Regions from separate parts of the Homo sapiens genome. Here region 2 is linked to region 1. The links come from fine-mapping of genetic effects on gene expression. A gene starts in region 1. The other region holds a variant in brackets. All regions are shown on one strand. Distances are from middle to middle.

Region 1 (4,399 bases):
TAAATGTTCATATTCTTTCACCCACTAGTTCTACTTCTAAAAATTATTCTGAGGAAAATCAGAGTTGTAGTTAAAAATAGGCTTATATCACTGTTGATTACAATGGTATTTTTTTAAAAAAAGGTTATATTATGATACACGTGAGGGGATATTATAATATTAATGTTTTCAGAGAATGATGAATGGGAAAAGATTCACGATAAAGTCAAGTGAAAAATATATACAAAATTCTACGTGGTATACCTTTTGTTTTAAAAAATATCACACACACATTGTGTCTTAATATAGAGGCTAAAAAATTACACACACATAAACACACATTTACATAGAAATAAAGTCTATAAGAACACATACCGTACTGTTAATAGTTACCATCTTTGGGTGGTGGGATAATGGATGATTTTAACTTGGGGGCTTATTTTCTACAATAAAATGTTCCTTGAGCATATATTACTATTATATTCAGAAATCAAAAATAATGGGTAAAAAAAATACACCCATCAGTTACCCTTACTCTAGAAAATATTTCTCTCTCCTTCAGCTACCACATTCAATCTATAAACATTGCCTCGATTTTAACTTACAAGTGTCTGTCCAAGCCATTATTCCATTACGTCTCTCATTTCATCTCAGGCCCTTGTCTTCCCTAATGAACGCCTCATATCTAGACTCTTCACTTCGGTAAAATGGCCACATTTTCCACTGCTTCTTCATTGCAGCCACATCAAGCCACTTTACATAGCCACCCTCCACACCCCGCCCCCTAAAAATGCACACCAGGTACTTTCACACTTCCCAAGCTTGGCATAATCAGTTCTCTTTCCCTGTAATACATTTTCTCCTGCCGGTTTTTCTAATCCAATTCATAGTTAAAGATTCACCTCGGATATCGCGTACTGGGTGTAGCCTCTGGGAGGCCGCAAGAACAGAAATTAATCCTTCAATGACAGTTTGTACATATTTCAACATTTAGCATTCTGTCCTGTCTGTGCCTCGCTCTCTCGCTGTATGGCATGGGCCACTTCATTTTTAAATTTTCTTAAAATCTAGTTGGATAAATGAAAGTAAAGCGTATACATGCAATACACATACGTACAGGGGTGCGAGTTTTGACCTGTGTCTGATGGAAAAAAATGGCATCAAAAACACTCGCCCGATTTTTTTCATTCAAGATGGCAGAGAACGTCTTAAAATAGTCCCACACAAAAGCACTCACATCTAGAGCCCCGAGTCAGAAGAACTGGCTACACCTAGCGCAACAGCAAAGGACAAAAGAATCGAATCTAGATGCTGAGATGCCCTGGCCCTAACTACCCACAGTAGGTCCCACAAATAGACTTTAAACCGTGTTAGAAAACGGGCACCTGCTGCCTTCATTCCGAGGGCCACGCCTTGACGGTGAACAGTGACCTGAAGCACTCTGGATACTGACCCAAAAAAATCGCGGATGGAAAAGGAGGAGGCTAAGTTGTGACTATCTAAAAGGCACGATTCGGCCCCGCCCCAGCCGGGCGCAGTCCCCCCCGCCGCACATCCATTCCCAGGAAGGAAGAGACACCGCTCCAGCCCAGAGCCTGGCAACCGGGCACCGTCTGGGAATTCTGGGCGGGCCCGAGATAGAGGCCGGCCACGGCCAGGGCGCCTCTGGCTACACCTGTCAGGCGACGACGGACTCTAGGCCCTGAAATCGCTGGGGTTCGGTGGTCGAGGCCAGCTGGAGCGCGTCACCCGATCCCTCGCCCCGGGAACGCCTTGCTTCCTCGATTTCCGTCTCGTCCTTCTCAAACAAAGGCAATCCACACCCACCGCCATTTTCCTCTTACCTCAAAAACCACCTCTTCGTCAAACTCCGGTGTCATCCTTCTCCGCCATGCCACCCGCCTCAGCACGATGGGAAATGAAGGCGGGAGTACAGGCGGCACGGAGCTCCAGCTCCTGCCCGTCCCGTGGGTCCAGAAAACTACAATTCCCAATATGCCTCGCCGCTCACGCCCCCTTTTCGAGCCCGCTTATTGGAGAAGAGAGTGAGCGTGTAAGCGAGAGAGGCGGGAGCGAGCTGAAGCTCGAGCCCTCCGATTGGAGGAGGCTAGGGCTTTTGTCTGCCTTTTACGGCCGCGACTAGCAGGGGGCGCCCGGAGCACTGCTGATTTTTGGAGCCCGAGAAGGGCACGCGCCAGCGGAGCCGAAGAGAGCACTGCTCGTGCCCGCGCCTGGCTGTCAGCCTGCCGCTCTGCGGGGCGGTGCTAGTGCTCGCCCGCCCGACCCCGGCGGCTCGCGCCCGGGAGCGCCGCAGGGTCGCTAGAGTCGGCCGCGTCCTTTGTGTGGCGCTCAGGCTGCGCCGCGGGGCGGCGGGACGGAATGTGGGCGCTGCGGGGGCTTTTCTCTCCTACCCGAACTGTGGGAACAATGGACTGAAAGGGGAAGATGGATTGAGGGGCCGAGCGGGGAAGCGAGCTGCACCGGGGAATCATGACTTCTGCAGCCGGTAAGTGACGGCGCTCGCGCTGCCGCGGGAAAGTTTGTGGCGAGCGCTGCTAGGCTTGGGCTCGCGAGCAACTTTCTTCGCCGGGGTGGGCGAGTTGTGTGCCCCGTACCTTTGCCGAGCACCTCGGCAAGCGCGGAGCTAATGGGATTCGCTGCCGGCTTTCTCGTCTTTTCCTGCCCAGAGGGGCTGTTTGGAAACCCGGGATTTCTCGGGATCTCCCTTCCAAGGGGGACTGTGCTGGGGGCTCTGCACCAGGTGAAATGCGATGTGTGAAGGGCGTTCGCTCATCTCTCCAGCAGTGCGAGGACTTCGCCTTTGCATGTGAAAATAGTGTAGATTCCCAAGTTAATAGATCAGTTATTATAGGTAAAGGCAGTGTTCTCAGCGTGTTCAATTTGGCCACTAAGTGAGTCGCTTTCAACCTTGTATCTGCTGGTAAACCTTTTACCCATTTTAAAGAGGCGTAGACATTGTCATGTCCTGGTGGTTTTACCTCTGTTACCTGAGAAGCAGAGGAGTTGAGATTGTTGAGGTTTTTTTTTTTTTTTTTTTTTTGCTTGTCTGCACCCAATTACAATTATTTTGTTTGTTTCTACCTGATTAGGGTAAACAAAGCTTTATTTTCTGTCTGCCTCCCATAGTTCTTTCCCCTTCATCCAAATGACAAAGCCTCTATCTTTGTGTGGATTTTCAGCAATTCTAGACGTTGTGTTTCTGAACATTCTTAAGGAACAATTTCTGTTTTACAAAATAATTACCAAAGTGGTGTTACGTTCACTTCGTAAGTACATAGGTTAATTTTTAAACCAGAACTTATGTATTAAGTAGAGTGTTATGGGTTATTTTACGTTTTTGTCCACGTTGAAACTTTCATTAGAAATTTTATAGTGAAATAGTTTAAAGCTTCTTCTCAAGGTTACTTCCAGAATCAGCACTTAAGTATCAGATTAAATTTTCATTGCTTTTCTTGGCATTTGTTTAAAATTCTTGCAACTTGAAACTGTCCAACAGCACTCAAATGTTCTGATTTGTATTATTTCTAAAGCCTAGATATATTGTAGTGTTGCATTGCTCCCTGTGATCAGATTACAACAAACGAAACAAGAAGTTAGCCAATAGGAAAAGAAAGCAAGAAGTGGGTGTTGTGTGGGTCTTTCCTTTTTGATGTTATATGCACTTATATGAGATATCTTTATAAACTCTCTTTTCTTTGCCAAAGGGAGGCTTTATACTTACATAAGGTAAATTATTTTCATCCTACATTTCTGTGCCTTACCTTCGTTCAAGAAATTGATTTAAATTAAAAGTGGTTGGAAATTTTAAAATCCTTCCAGCCAGTTTTAGCTCTTTCCTTTTTGGAGGTGTCAAATGTATTTAAAATAACCGTGTCTTATATGTATCAGTTTTCAATTCCAGTCTTAACAGTTTATAAGGAACAGGCACAGAAGCATGTAATTTCACATTTATGTAAACCCAATTTCTAGGGCCCAGACTGGAAGTTCATGATTCTTGCATTTGAATTATCCTAAAATAATGCAAGCTATTTTTGTATTTTATCAACTTTACAATTAAAGAAATCCACAGAAATTTTTGTGGTGTTTAAAGTGGGACACTTCCTGTGTCTAGCCGAGTTGGTTGGTTTTTAGCATTGCTGGCTGAGAAGCATCAACTACTTTTTTGCTCACCCATCTGTTGGATTTATCATAATTCTTTCTGGTGTCTAGATGGGGAATATGGAAGAGAACTGGGGTTTTATTTCTACCCATTCTTATATGTATACATAGTTCTTACAAGCTGATTATGGTGCTTTTTGGGAACAATAGTCAAATTCATTGAAACGTTTAGGAAAGTTACTTGAAGTTAAGGGAGGGGATTTTTGCTTTTGAATCTAATCTGTGGTATTTGGAAGGGTTG
Region 2 (4,399 bases), 83 kb before region 1:
GCCTCGGCCTCCCAAAGTGCTGGGATTACAGGCGTGAGCCACCGCACCTGGCCAGGGTGGCAGCTTTGAAAGCTAGCCAAAAGCCTGCTAAGGGAAGTAAAATATTCTTAGAAAAGTAACAAACAAGAAAACCTACTCATATTACATTGGCCTGTTTTTTAATACTTCCTAAGGTATTCATGGCAAGAAGAGCAAAGTTCCAGACAGAGGTTCCTAGATTTTATTGGACATAAACATTACCTATGGCTCATTCCAAAAAGACCAACTAAGAATCACTGGGAGTATGGTCTAAAATTTGCATTTTAAAAATAAGACTTTATTTATTTTGATGTAGTTACCCCACTAATACAACTGAGAACCACTGACTTCAAATATTATGAGAGAAAATTACTCCAGGAATTTTTGCAGAGAAGATAATACTTTATCTTGAAAATATTTTAAATATTTTAAAAGATGGAAACTACACAAAAGAACAAATACTCAAATAAAGCTGCAAGATCTTTATGTCATAATTTCAACAAGTAGAGTTTTCACTGGATTATGTAACAAGTAGTGAATTAAATAGATCAGACTGAAAGACTGGAAATTCTCGATTAAAATTATTTAGTCTTTCAAAATTAAAAGGTATCACCTTAGAGAACACTGAATAAAACTGATACAATTTTATGAAGATTTTCCCCCAAACTGGTGTAATAAAAGTAACATACAATAAAAGAATTAAAAATTATTAAACTCTAATTCTTCCTGTGTAAGGTTATAGGTTGAGAGAGATTACCAAGTTTTTCCATAATTGCTTCTTCTAAATCCAAAGAAAAATGAAGTCGGTAAACTAAATAAGTGATTTAAATAAGAAAGTAAACCCTAAGTATTATTGAATAATTTAACAGTTATAACACACAAAGATTTTTAAAATTGAAATTTAGCTATTTCTAAGTAGTAAAGCAAGGCCCAACCTAAGGTATTGCTCCGAAGAGGTTAATTATAGATGAGTTCCAGGATTTTGGCAAAAAGGCAAAATCACTTATAGTACAATAATCTCTACTGTTTATATAAAGCAGAACCAAGTTTTTTTCTCAGGTTAAAAAGTAAATTTCCTTAGATTCCTGAAAGAAAAAAAATCCCCTTTGGTATAAGTAAATTTACTCACTGAAAGTGATAAGTTACAGGAATTTGAATGTGTTTCTTTACTCTAAAGACAATCTAGATTCATCATGCAATTTCCTTTCTAGGACAGCAACATAGATTGAGTTATTACTACATTTCCCCCAAATAATGTCTATAGAACTATGTTATTGCATAGGAGCTACAGGTTTCAAAACTGTATATGCTGAAAATAATTACTCTTTGAAAATGCAATCACAACACAAAACAGGTAAGATTGGCCAATTTGAAAAGCAGTCTCTGTTAAGAGGTAGTTTGTAAATGAAATACTAAGGAGACAAGGATGCTTTCCAGGAGGCTGACAGGATGTTTCCTGAATCTCATTATGGTGGACAGGGCTAGAAAACAGCAGGATTGTGACCTGTTTGTGTTAATGGCACCCAATTATCCAAGGTAAAGTGATACAAGGAACGTTTTTCTGCTTGCTAAATTGGGGGTGGGGCCTTGGAGTACAGAAATCCCACTTTGACATCATCACTTTCAATTGCAAAAAGAAAGGTGAAAGTGTAATTCTAAAAAATGGTACAATATTTTTCTTTTAAAGATCACTAGGACATCTTAAAATTAACTACTAAATACACACATGAACAAAGAAACATAAGAAATGTCATAACCCACGCACTGTTGAAACTACTTTTAGTTCCAAACCCCAGCACACATCAATTGTATCAATTAATTTTTTTATTCAGAACCTGGATCTTTAAGACTGGTATAAACAAAAATAAAATACAAACAACTTGTTATTAACATAATAGCTGCAGTTATTAACTGCAAGAATACAGTAAAAAGGAGTCATACTAAATGTTAATGTTCTTGCAACAGAATTTTCCCAATCACCTTAAGGTAGCAAATTCTGGCAAGAAATGATAATTCATTTCTTATTAAAAATACTTAAAGAATTTCCAAGATTGATCAGTTGTGCCACAAATAAAACAGCAGTTTATTCAAAAGAGCCCTTACCTTTCTCTTATTTTCCTAAAAGATCTGCCATTTACAGGTAACTACTAATTTCAGATCAGTTATTCAAACCAGGGTTCTTCCTGTAAATCCACATCTTAGCTTTATATATAGTAAACTTACACTCATATTCCCTTTCCAGTCTTGAAGCTAAACACTTTTGTAAAAGGAACAATCTAATATCACTTCATATGAATCTTGGTTCTTACTTTTCTTCTATCTCATTTTTATTTTCTTCTATTATTTGTTCTTCCTCCTCA[C/T]CACCAAAAGTCTGTTCCTGCATGGTGGTAAAGGAGAGAGATCTAGCAGCCACTTCTGCAGCAAGGCCAGCAGTGAAGGTAAAATCTGGTGACAGCTGTAGCCGTGCCAGCCTCTGCTTAATGGAGGGCTGTAATGAGTCCCTGGGAGTTGGAGGGGCAGTGGTCAGACCACTTCCATCTGCTTGTGGTTCATCTTCACTCTCACATTGGTAACACATTCTTTCTTCTGCTCCTTGGGGGAAGACTTCATTTGAAGAATTATCTTTATTTTTACCTTCTAGAGAGTTTTCACATAAATACTCAGTCCTACTTATTTCATTGTCTGTTGTGGCGGATTTATTACTTTCCTCTTCAGTATCATTTTTACTGACTTTTCCCATATCTGAATTCATTGATGGTTCTGAATTACTTATGGGTTCCACTGGGTCTACAGGAGACAAGGATTTCAACACGGCTTCAAATAAAAAAAAAGAAAAAAGAAAAAAAATAACTAAGGACCTAGCAATGATTTAAACTTTTAATTCAAACTCTCAGTTTTTTTCTTAAAAAGAACAATAAATAAATAAAAGCTAAATAAAACTTTCTAGTAAAATCAATGAAAATTTATAAATCCAGGAAACTTTATAAGAGAGAAAATGCCTAAGAAATGAAATGAGATAGGGATTTGATGAAGGTTTTTATGACACCTCACATATTATCTTATTTAAAATATTAAAGCAGTGGTTCTGAAAGTGTGTTCCCTGAACCAACATTATCAGTTATCACCTAGGAATTTGTTAAAAATGCAAATTCTTGGGCCTGATCCCAGACCTCCTGAAATGGAAACTCTGGGAGTAGGGACCAGCTATATTTTACAAGCCCTCATCTTGATTCTGATACACACTAAAGTTTGAGAACCATTGTATTAGGGAATAAGCAGCATGGTTTTCACTGATAATACATCAGATAAAAGGCTTAAAGTAATCTAGATAATAATAATATCTTCCATATGTATACATATATATTTACAAGTTAAAACAGCATGGAAAAAAATGCAACATACAATTTAACTTACTTGCCAACCACCTAACAAGACCCTAATGAAAGAAAAGCCATAACTTCTACACATTTTGTAGTACCACGAAAAATACAAATGAAGTCTGCATTCAAGATCAACTATTGTACAAAATATAATACATAAATATAATATATATTCATACGGTAGAAGTTGTCCTTGCAAGGAAAATGCAGTTTTATTTAGCCCCTCTTGATGTTAGTAGGCAGTGGGTTGCTTGCTAGGCAGTCGCTCATCCCAGCATGAGGGGTTAGTACAATACAATATAGTATGAAGCATGACGGAAGGAAAAAAGTGCTTCTCGAAGAGCTGGCGTGTATTTAAAAAACGTTTTTGTAAAATGTGTCCACTTCCAGGAACCATCCCTAAGCTGCAGTAACTCCACTAGAGAAGCAGCAACAACAGAAAAAAAATGGCCACAGCAGGTTCCAGTGCAGACTTTCCCCCTCTAATTCCATGCGGACTTTACCCCTGTAGGCAGAGATGAAAACAGCTCTGGAAGATGTACTGAAATTTTTCATGGGAAAAGCATTCTATGGTATCAGCAGCTTTTTACTTATTTTCACAAACTAAAACAGCATTATGACCCTTTCCAATGTAAACTATATCAAAAGCACATACCTGAAAAAGAGACACATTTCTCTCATTGATAAATCTTTCCCATAATGTCAATAGCATAATTTTAAAGCTATATGAAGAAACACTAAACAATAAAAAAGGATATAAGTTTATATACAATGCTATTTTCAATATATGTACATTCTTAGTTTATAAATCTGTTAGCTCTTAAAGGAAGCAACATATATTAGAAGTTGGTTGATAGTTCACAATTATTACTAATTAAATGGGGTGGATATAATCTGAGTAATGAGAGGATCAATTGACGAGTGTGTTAGAATTTAAGCCTTGAGGCAGGTAGGAGGCTTTACATTTTGTCTCTTGATCTTTGCGCTAGGGATACAGCAGT

Which allele goes with the higher level. Positions count from the first base shown, and alleles are read on the strand shown. Sizes are in standard deviations (SD) of each study's normalised expression.
For the expression in CD8 T cells of the gene that starts at base 1,903 in region 1, allele C in region 2 goes with a lower level than allele T (moderate effect, 0.71 SD a copy in CEDAR).

Evidence for each region. PIP is the estimated chance that this variant, and not a neighbour inherited with it, causes the effect.
Region 2: its variant is fine-mapped to the expression of VEZT in CD8 T cells (CEDAR, PIP 0.95).

The regions. Positions count from the first base shown.
Region 1 is chr12:95,215,311-95,219,709 of GRCh38, reverse strand. It overlaps VEZT (vezatin, adherens junctions transmembrane protein), which reads right to left and starts at 1,903. Exons shown (of 12, transcript NM_017599.4): 1 at 1,824-1,903. The coding sequence starts at 1,859. It overlaps FGD6 (FYVE, RhoGEF and PH domain containing 6), which reads left to right and starts at 2,243. Exons shown (of 21, transcript NM_018351.4): 1 at 2,243-2,485. The coding sequence starts at 2,470. RefSeq lists enhancers at 1,035-1,084, 1,685-1,924, 1,389-1,984, 1,985-2,579 and a silencer at 2,155-2,384.
Region 2 is chr12:95,298,598-95,302,996 of GRCh38, reverse strand. It overlaps VEZT (vezatin, adherens junctions transmembrane protein), which reads right to left. Exons shown (of 12, transcript NM_017599.4): 12 at 198-2,832. The coding sequence ends at 2,324. Among named protein-coding and RNA genes, the nearest start is that of MIR331, 7.6 kb to the left of the region's middle. The variant C/T (reference allele first, on the strand shown) is at 2,379.